Regions from separate parts of the Homo sapiens genome. Here region 2 is linked to region 1. Evidence: fine-mapped expression QTL. A gene starts in region 1. The other region holds a variant in brackets. All regions are shown on one strand. Distances are from middle to middle. Region 1 holds the start of TMC7 (transmembrane channel like 7). Region 2 overlaps TMC7 (transmembrane channel like 7).

Region 1 (5,372 bases):
CAGGCGGGCGGATCACGAGGTCAGGAGATCGAGACCATCCTGGCTAAGACGGTGAAACCCTGTCTCTACTAAAAATACAAAAAAATTAGCCAGGCGTGGTGGCGGATGCCTGTAGTCCCAGCTACTCGGGAGGCTGAGGCAGGAGAATGGCATGAACCCGGGAGACGGAGCTTGCAGTGAGCCGAGATCGCGCCACTGCACTTCAGCCTGGGCGACAGAGTAAGACTCCATCTCAAAGAAAAAAAAAAAGAACCAAGAGGAGTCCAGGCGAAGAGAACAGCAGATGCAAAGACCCTGAGGCAGAAACAATCTTGGTATGCTGGAGGAATAGGAAGGCAGCCAGTGCAGCTAGAGCAGGATAGGTTAAGGGAGGATCAAGGTGATGAGGGCCTGGAAAGAGGGGCTGGGGTCGAATCACCAGATCCTGTTGGTTGCGATGGAAGAGCCTGGAGTTTATTCTCAGAGCAGTGAGAAGCCACCGGAAAGTTGTTTTTCTGTTTTTGAGACAGAGTCTAGCTCTGTCACCCAGGCAGACTGCAGTGGTGCAACCTCGGCTCACTGTAACCTCTGCCTCCCAGGTTCAAGCGATTCTCCTGCCTCAGGCTCCCCAGTAGCTGGGATTACAGGCACATGCCGCCATACCCATCTTTTTTTTTTTTTTTTTTTCAGACAGAGTCTCTGTCACCCAGGCTGGAGTGCAGTGGCACAATCTCGGCTCACTGCAACCTCCACCTCCCGGGTTCAAGCGATTCTCCTGCCTCAGCCTCCCGAGTAGCTGGGACTACAGGTGCATGCCACCACACCTGGCTAATTTTTTGTGTTTTTAGTAGAGACAGGATTTCACCACGTTAGCCAGGATGGTCTCGATTTCCTGACCTCGTGATCTGCCCACCACGGCCTCCCAAAGTGCTGGGATTACAGGTGTGAGCCACTGTGCCTGGCCAGCCACCGGAAAGTTTTATGTAAGCAGGGGAGTGATCTGTTTTATCATTTAGAAGGATACATACCTCTTCTTTTTTTTTTAGAGACAGGGTCTAGTTCTGTCACCCAGGCTGGAGCCCAGTGTCATAATCATAGCTTACTGTAACCTCAAACTCCTGGGCTCAAGTGATCCTCCTGCCTCAGCATCCCAAAGTGCTGGATTACAGGCATGAGTCACCATGCCTGGTCACACTTCTCATTCTTTAAACCAGACCTCATTTGTCGCCTCCCCCATCCCCCGCCCCACCCCACGGACTGTCCTATAATGCCCATACAACAGGTCACTGTTTAGAAAGTGCTACAAAGTTACAAACACAGTCCCTTCTGAGCCTCCCACCAATGTTGGTGGGTACAAGATCAAAAAAAAAAAAAAAAAACTCATCTATCTAAGGGGCATAGAAGACTTTTTAGTTAGAGGGCCCAATTATAGTCCTCCTGAAAAGATGCCAAAAGTCCCCTCATACACTTAGCAAAGATGCAAGAAAGATGAATCTCACATTCTTTGTATGGGAAATGAGGAACTTGACATCTTCAATATAATGGATTCCACTAAAATAAGATGACTATTAATAGGAACCAACTAAAAAAATACTTGACTAGCTGTTATTGAAAGGCTGAAATTCAGCTGACATAAGCAGTATTAATATTGAGCTAGAAAATAATTCGCATTGAATCCACCCCAACTTTTGTTTTCTGATTTGGGTCTCTTCTAAATTTTTTTTTTCTTCTGGACATTGGGAACAATCCAATTTGAAGGCCTCAATGACCAAATCTACACTCATGTTTTATTCTATATCCTTGGTTTCTTTTTTTTTTTTTGAAACAGTCTTGGTCTGTCGCCCAGGCTGGAGTGCAGTGGCGCAATCTCGGCTCACTGCAACCTCCGCCTCCCGGGTTCAAGCTATTCTCTGCCTCAGCCTCCCAAGTAGCTGGGATTACAAGCACCCACCACCACTCCTGGCTAATTTTTGTATCTTCAGTAGAGATGGGGTTTCACCATCTTGGCCAGGCTGGTCTTGAACTCCTGACCTCGTGATCCACCCGCCTCAGCCTCCCAAAGTGCTGGGATTACAGGCGTGAGCCACCACGCCCGGCCCTACATCCTTGGTTTCAGTAAATCTCTATTCTAAAACTGAAAAAGAGAAAACATTGCAGATAAAACTTTACAGCAGGGTCTTGTGTTTTGTTCAGGACAAGATTCGTAAGCTCCAAATGCTACAAGGAACCCTGCCTGAGTGCTGGCAACTTTTTTATCCTGACTGGGCAGCCGTTGTACATATTTCTGTAGAAATTCATGGAGCTGTATACTTTACTGTAATTCTACCCGATACAAAAGATTATAATACTTGGCTGGCTACCATTTATTGTGACTGTCTAGCCACAATGCCAGGCACTGTGCTAGACACATCACACGATTCTCAGCTAATCCCCGCCCCATTCTATTCCCATTTTACTGCTGAAGGATCTGAGGCTCAGAGAAGGCAAGCCACTTACCAAAGGTCCCACAGCAATAAACAGACAAGGCAGAATTCGGTTTCAAGTTGGTCTAACTGTATGTGAAGGCTGAAATGTCCGGGAGGCAGGCACCTCATACCAGAATGTTAGGCGTGGAGGGGGTGCTCAAATCCTTTCATTTAACAGCAGATGAGGCTATTGAAAGACTGTCTCGGTCAACAGCTGGAAGACAAACCCACCACGGTCCAGACTGCAGTTCTCGTGTCCTTTTGGCCCGGCTGGGTTCCACTGGATTGGATGAGGACGCGTTTGTGGAGGGAGCAGGAATAAGGAAGATCTCCTTCCCACCTGCTGTTCCCCAGAGCCGGGAGCACCCGGCGTCGGGGGTGGGAGGGAACAGCGGCCAGGCCGAGCCTCCAGCACCCGGCTCCCTCCGTGCGCCCTCGGACCCCAGGGGCACCGTCCCCGCGCGCGCTCCCTGCCGCCCTACCTGGATGGACCGCCGGCTGCCGGCTGGGCCTGCCGGGCTGGAGCGCACTGCCGCTGGACTCGCTCATGGCCGCGCCCCGCGCTCCTCAGAGGCTGCCGAGGACCCTCTCCAGCCGCCGCCGCCGCCGCCGCCTCCCCGGCCTTCCCTCGCGGAGCCGGGATTCCAGGTTCCGGCGCTGACATCACAGAAGCCGGAGTGGGGCGCCCCCGCGAGGAGCCGAGCATCAGGGACCGCAGAGGGGCTGCAGAGCCCGGGAGATCCGGCAAGGCTCCATCCAGCGGTGGCGACAAGCAGCGACCTCCCTGATGTCTCACTGAGCTTAAAAAATAACAATAGATTGGGCGCACTGGGAGCCCAGTCTCCACCAGGACCCGGTACACCCATGTAACAAACATGCACATGGACCCCCTGCATCTAAAATCAAACCTGATCTAATAAAGAAATAAATAACAAAAATAACTGGTTGGGAGTGGTGGCTCACGTCTGTAATCCTCGCATTTTGGGAGTCCGAGGCTGGAGGACCGCACGAACTCACAAGTTTGAGACCAACCTGGCCAACACAGTGAGACCCCCATCTTTAAAATTAAAAAATAAAAAGTCCACACGCAAAAAACCCCAAGACTCCAAATCAGTGCATCTAGTAAGTTACCATTTGGGAACAAAAAGGAAACCAAAAAATATATTTGTACATGCTTGTAAATGCCTAAGCTATCTCCCTAGAGGGTGCAAAAAACTGGCTACCTGTGGTAGCTCTGGGTGGGGAGCTAGAGGGCCGAGTGAAGAGAAAACCACGTGCAGTGTTTGTCTTTTACGTTTTGCACTATATCCTCGTTTCATCTCTACCTCTGTTCGTGTGCAGGTTAAAAACATAAAATTGCCAGGCGCAGTGGCTCACACCTGTAATCTCACCACTTTGAGAGGCCGAGGCGGGAGGATCACCTGAGGTCAGGAGTTCGAGACTATCCTGGCCAACACGGTGAAACCCTGTCTCTACTAAAAATACAAAATTAGCCTGGCATGGTAGTGCATGCCTGTAGTCCCAGCTACCAGGGAGGCTGAGGCAGGAGAATCGCTGGAACCCAGGAGGCAGAGGTTGCAGTGAGCCGAGATCACGCCACTGCACTCCAGCCTGGGCGACAGAAGGAGACTCCATCTCAGAAAAAAAAAGAAAAAGAAAAGTAATTGCTAAATATAAATAAATGGGGAAAATGGAGAGAAATCTCCTGTGCAGATTTTGAAATCATTTACGTAGATACTTTAAGGATGGGGAGCTTAGCTCCCTACTCCTTAAGTGTGAGTTGCCCATAGCGACATCCTTCCAAAAGAGTGCAGTATGGAAGTGGTGGTGGAAGAGGGTGAGGGTGGGTTTTATATTAGATAATACCTGACAAACACTGTCTCAGACAGATGATCAAAGTTAACATCATCCGGGATCAGTGGCTCACACCTGTAATCCCAGCACTTTGGGAGGCCGAGGCAGGTGGATCACTTGAGGTCAGGAGTTCGAGACCAGCCTGGCCAACATGGCGAAACCCTGTCTCTACCAAAAATACAAAAAAATTAGCTGGGCATGGTGGCGGGCGCCTGTAATCCCAGCTACTAGGGAGGCTGAGGCAGGAGAATCTCTTGAACCCAGGAGGCGGAGGTTGCAGTGAGTCGAGATTGCACTACTGCACTCCAGCCTGGGCAACAGAGTAAGACTCCATCTCAAAAAAAAAAAGTAAATAAGTAAATAAGTTAACATCAACATTAAGCCATGAGGATGGTGTGCACCCTTCCTACGATGGGATGAGAAGGGCACTTTACCTCTGTGGTCATAAGAAAAATATCAGACAAATTCAACTGAGGGGCATTCTACAGAATACCTGATTAGTATTCCTCAAAACTGTCAAGGTCATTTAAAAAAAAAAAAAAAGGAGGCTGGAGACTGGGTGTGGTGGCTCATGCCTGTAATCCCAGCACTTTGGGAGGCCAAGGCAGGTGGATCGCAAGGTCAGGAGTTCGAGACCAGCCTGGCCAAGATGGTGAAACCCTGTCTCTACTAAAAAAAATACAAAAAATTAGCTGTGTATGGTGGTGGGCACCTGTAACCCCAGCTACTCAGGAGGCTGAGGCAGAGAATTGCTTGAACCCAGGAAGCGGAGCTTGCAGTGAGCCGAGATTGTGCCACTGCACTCCAGCCTGAGCAACAGAGTGAGACTCCGTCTCAAAAAAAAAAAAGGCTGGACGCAGTGGCTCATGCCTATAATCCCAGCACTTTAGAAGGCTGAGGTAGGAGGATGGCTTGAGCCCAGGAGTTGGAGACTAGCCTGAGCAACACAGTGAGACCCCATCTCTCCAAAAAATTTTAAAAATTATCTGAATGTGGTGGTGCACGCCTATAATCTGAGCTACTCAGTTCCTGGAACACAAGTTAAAACACATTAAAAACTATGGAAATCTTAAT
Region 2 (5,372 bases), 21 kb before region 1:
GAGCTAGCCTGCTGGAAGATGAGACTATGTGGGATGACTGCCCCAGCTGAGGCCGCTCCAGACCAGTCTTCAGCCAGCTTGACCGCCCTGCTAACCACAGACACTCAGAATGAATGACATTCCTAATTTGCTTGCATTTAGAGAGCTGGTGATTGGGAGCACTGCAGACAAAGCCAGGGCTGACTCCAAAACCCTTATCGTTTCTATATCAGGCCAGAGCTAGAAGCCAAGCTTTGCTGTGTCTTGGGCAGCAGGCTAAGGCAGGCGGGCTTTCTGCTGAAGGGGAGGGAAGCTACCTTCAAGATGGGTTTTATCCCTGATCAGATTTTAGTTGCAGGAAGATCACTCTGAGTGGAGACAGACAGGACTCAGGGAGAAGAGGGGGCAGGCAGCCATAATTACCTAAGCAATTACCCCTATGCAGCAAAGCTTCTATGCAGCAAAGCTTCATGATCAATGCCAAATGCTTGAGTTTGGATCCCCACTCTGTCACTTATTAGCTGTATGTCTTTGTGAAAGTTACTTAACCTTTCTAAGACTCAGTTTCCTCATCTCAAATACTCATTCAACAACTCTATCTACCATATGTCATATCTGGAACTAAGGGAACTGCAGTGAACAAGGCAAGTGCCCTACTCACGCGGCAGTTATATTCTGAGATGAGGGAGAGGGATATCAAATAATAAACAGGCAGTAAATATTATGCCAGGAAGTGATAAGTGTAATGAAAAAAAAAAAAAAGAACAGAGTGGTGTCAGGGGACAGAGGTGATATGAGAGGGGTAAACTGTTTTTGATAAGGTGGGGTCAGGTATTGTCTCTCTTTATTTTATTTATTTATTTTTTTTTTTTTTGAGACGGAGTCTCGCTCTGTCACCCAGGCTGGAGTGCAGTGGCACGTGATCTCGGTCTCTCTTTAAAGGTGACATTTAGCTAAGGCTGAATGAAGGGAAGGGGTGAGACCCCTGGATATTTGGGGAAAAGCACCCCAGGCAGAGGGAACCCATAAGTGGAAAGGCCCAGCGGCAGAAGAGTGTGTGACAGGTTGGAGGAAGAGTTAATGAGCAAGAACCTGGTGGGCGGTTTCGTTGGTGGCCTCCAATGAGCCACACTGGCCTGGCCCTCTGCGTGGTCCCCTCCTTGAATCTGCACAGGACCTGTGCTTGCTTTAACCAAAGGACTCAATGGAAGTAATGCTCTGCCATTTCCAGCCCAAAGTCATAAGAGGGCCTTGCAGTAGCCACTTCTGTGTTCTCGGGCCAGGGTTACCTGGTAGGAAGTCCAACTGCCTAGGACAATGAGGTGGAGAGGAAGAGCCCCTAAGCCTACAAAAAGAACCAACAACCTGGGTGACTGCAAGAACCAAGGCCCCAGGCTCGTGTCTTCAAACCCCTGGGACAGCCAGGCACGGTGGCTCACACCTGTAATCCCAGCATTTTGGGAGGCCGAGGCAGGCGGATCACCTGAGGTGGGGAGTTCAAGACCAGCCTGGCCAACATGGTGAAATCCCATCTCTACTAAAAATACAAAAAAAAAAAAACTAGCTGCACGTGGTGGCACGCGCCTATAATCCCAGCTACTCAGGAGGCTGAGGTAGAAGAATAGCTTGAACCTGGGAGGCAGAGGTTGCAGTGAGCCGAAATTGGACCACTACACTCCAGCCTAAGCGACAGAGCAAGACTTTGTCTCAAAAAAGCAAAACAAAAGAAAACAAAAAAAACCCCTGGGGCATCCTCACCAGGCATCGCCATGATGAGGCCATCTTGGGTGCTCCAGCGCCAGCAGACATCCCAGGCAGCAGTGCAAGCGGGCTCCCCCGTGCCCTGCATCGTCCCTGATGCACAGAATCAGCAGAAATAACAACATGGCTTAAGCCAGCACATTTGGAGCAGTGTGTTGAGCAACAATAGGTATTTAGGACAGGGAGAATGGAAACGTTAAAGTCAGAGGGGTGGCTGGGGTCGAACCAAGTCAGGCTTTGTAGACTGTGGCAGGACCTTGGGATGTTGTGCTTTGACTGCATTTTAAAAGGTCACCCTGGGCCGGGCACGGTGGCTCACGCCTGTAATTCCAGCACTTTGGGAGGCCAAGGCAAGGGGATCACCTGAGGTTGGGAGTCCAAGACCAGCCTGACCAACATGGAGAAACGCTGTCTCTACTAAAAATACAAAATTAGCTGGGCACGCTAGCGCGTGCCTGTAATCCCAGCTATTTAGGATCGCTTGAACCCAGGAGGCGGAGGTTGCAGTGAGCCGAGATCGTGCCATTGCACTCCAGCCTGGGCAACAAGAGCGAAACTCCGTCCAAAAAAAAAAAAAAAGGTCACCCTGGAGGCTGCAAGGGCAAGGCTGGGGTCAGGACTTGCTACACAGCCTGTTTATGAACATTAAAGGGGATCACATGGGTAGAAGGTCCCAGGCAGTGCTCGGCACACACAGAGCTCCATAAAGGCACCAACCGGATGAGGATGGGCAGGGGCAGGGCCAGGTGGGGACCGGTCAAGGCCTGGCTCTGACACTGTAATCTTTGCCTTTCTCGGATAGGCAAGTTCAGACACAATGGAGCAGCTGTCCCACTGTAGATGACACATGGACACGTGGCTGGGGCCCTGCCAATCACCATGTGCAAGTCTACGAGCCTCACCCACCCTTCTACCTCCCTGCCTGGCACACCCTGAGGATATGACACACTTCCATTAGTGGCAGTGGCTCCCTAGAGCCAATATGAGGGTAGGGTGGGTGTGGTCCCTGAAAAGGAAAAGGGTCTAAGCCCTGCATGGAGGCTACCCTCCTGCAAGCAGAAACAAAGAGCTATTATTAGCCACAAACAAAGGTCTTTGAATATAGAACAGCATGGACCTACTGAATATTCAACAGCTG[T/C]GGGGTCAGGGGCCCCAGGCTGGAGCCTGGGTTGGTTTAAAATACTGGCCTGTCACCCACCAGCCAAGCCACCCCAGGAGAGACCACAGCTGCCTCAGAGTCACATTTTTCTCATCTCGGGAATGGAGGATCTAATACCATGGGCCTCATCAGCATGATGGTGAGGAAGGAGTTGCAAACAACATGAACAACACTGGCTAAGATTTATTGAGTACTTGCCTACCTTGTACCAGGCCATTTAAAGTATTTAACATGCGGGCCAGGCGTGGTGGCTCACGCCTGTAATCCCAGCACTTTGGGAGGCCGAGGCGAGTGGATCACGAGGTCAGGAGATCAAGACCATCCTGCTAACATGGTGAAACCCCATCTCTACTAAAAATACAAAAAAATAGCCGGGCATGGTGGCGGGTGCCTGTAGTCCCAGCTAACTTGGGAGGCTGAAGCAGAAGAATGGCGTGAACCCAGGAGGCAGAGCTTGTGGTGAGCCAAGATTTTGCCATTGCACTCCAGCCTGGGCGACAGAGCGAGACTCCGTCTCAGAAAATAAATAAATAAATAAATAAATAAATAAATAAATAAATAAATAAAATAAAGTATTTAACATGCATCGTCACACTTAATACTCCGAACTACTCTTTAGAGAGAATTATCCCCATTGTGCTGGTGTGGTCTCAGCTACTTTGGGAGGCTAAAGCAGGAGGATTGCTTGAGCCCAGGAATTCAAGACCAGCTTGGTCAACATAACAAGACTCCAATTCCAAGAAAAAAAAAACCCAAAAGACAAACAAAAGAATTATCTCCATGTTACAGATTAATAACTGAGGCTCAGACAATTAGTAAGTGTTGCTTGCTCACACAGTAAGTGTTGGAACTAGGAACCCATCACAGGTTTATCAGACCCCAAAGCTGTAGTCTTCACCATGAAAAAATTCAGGGGGCCATGGATTTAAAAGTGTTTGTAAATGTTAAAATACCGTATAAGCTGGGCACGGTGGCTCACGCCTGTAATCCCAGCACTTTGGGAGGCTGAGGCAGGTGGATCACTTGAGGTCATGAGTTCAAGACCAGCCTGGCCAACATGGTGAAACCCCGTCTCTATTAAAACTAGAAAAATCAGCCAGGCATGGTGGCAAGTGCCTGTAATCCCAGCTACTCAGGAGGCTGAGGCAGGAGAATTGCTTGAAGCCAGGAGGCGGAGGTTGCAGTGAGCCGAGATCACGCCACTGCACTCCAACCTGGGCAACAGAGCAAGACTCCATCCCAAAAAATATATACAAATAAATAAATAAAAATAAAAATAAAATTCCATACAAATCAACTAGGTAATTATCCTGTTTTTCATACACCACCTACCCCCTCCTAGGAAGAACTGTTCTGATTTTTCCTCTTTAGACACTCCAGGGAAGTTCCTCAACTTCAAACAAAAAATGTCACGACCATGTCTTTGAACACAGGCATCATTATTTTTATAACTAGGATCCACCCCCTCGTTTGCATATAACACACACTTTTCCCAGCATGACGTCACCTCATTTCTCACGCCAACCTGCAGAGGTAAGCACAGAGGGCTTCACTTGCCCTGGTATTTTTTTTTTTTTTTTTAAATTTATTTTTTTATTGATAATTCTTGGGTGTTTCTCACAGAGGGGGATTTGGCAGGGTCATGGGACAATAGTGGAGGGAAGGTCAGCAGATAAACAAGTGAACAAAGGTCTCTGGTTTTCCTAGGCAGAGGACCCTGCGGCCTTCCGCAGTGTTTGTGTCCCTGATTACTTGAGATTAGGGATTGGTGATGACTCTTAACGAGCATGCTGCCTTCAAGCATCTGTTTAACAAAGCACATCTTGCACCGCCCTTAATCCATTTAACCCTGAGTGGACACAGCACATGTTTCAGAGAGCACAGGGTTGGGGGTAAGGTCACAGATCAACAGGATCCCAAGGCAGAGGAATTTTTCTTAGTGCAGAACAAAATGAAAAGTCTCCCATGTCTTCTACTTTCTACACAGACACAGCAACCATCCGATTTCTCAATCTTTTCCCCACCTTTCCCGCCTTTCTATTCCACAAAGCCGCCATTGTCATCCTGGCCCGTTCTCAATGAGCTGTTGGGCACACCTCCCAGACGGGGTGGTGGCCGGGCAGAGGGGCTCCTCACTTCCCAGTAGGGGCGGCCGGGCAGAGGCGCCCCTCACCTCCCGGACGGGGCGGCTGGCCGGGCAGGGGGGCTGACCCCCCCCACCTCCCTCCCGGACGGGGCGGCTGGCCGGGCAGAGGGGCTCCTCACTTCCCAGTAGGGGCGGCCGTTGCCCTGGTATTTTTTATTTTTTTTGAGATAGGGTCTTGCTCTATTGCCCAGGCTGGAGTGTAACCTGAATTCCTGGGCTCAAGCGATCCTCCCACCTCAGCCTCCCAAATAGCTGGGACTACAGATGCACACCACTACACCTGGATAATTTTTTTCTTTTTCAGTTTTTAGTAGAGACGGGGTCTTG

The links. PIP is the estimated chance that this variant, and not a neighbour inherited with it, causes the effect. A credible set is the group of variants that fine-mapping cannot tell apart.
Region 2: its variant is the best candidate, but not a certain one, in a credible set for the expression of TMC7 in tibial nerve (GTEx, PIP 0.89).

The regions. Positions count from the first base shown.
Region 1 is chr16:18,981,685-18,987,056 of GRCh38, reverse strand. It overlaps TMC7 (transmembrane channel like 7), which reads right to left and starts at 3,123. Exons shown (of 16, transcript NM_024847.4): 1 at 2,927-3,123. The coding sequence starts at 2,993. RefSeq lists a silencer at 3,153-3,212.
Region 2 is chr16:19,003,151-19,008,522 of GRCh38, reverse strand. All of the region lies in intron 1 of TMC7 (transmembrane channel like 7), which reads right to left. Among named protein-coding and RNA genes, the nearest start is that of TMC7, 22 kb to the right of the region's middle. The variant T/C (reference allele first, on the strand shown) is at 2,879.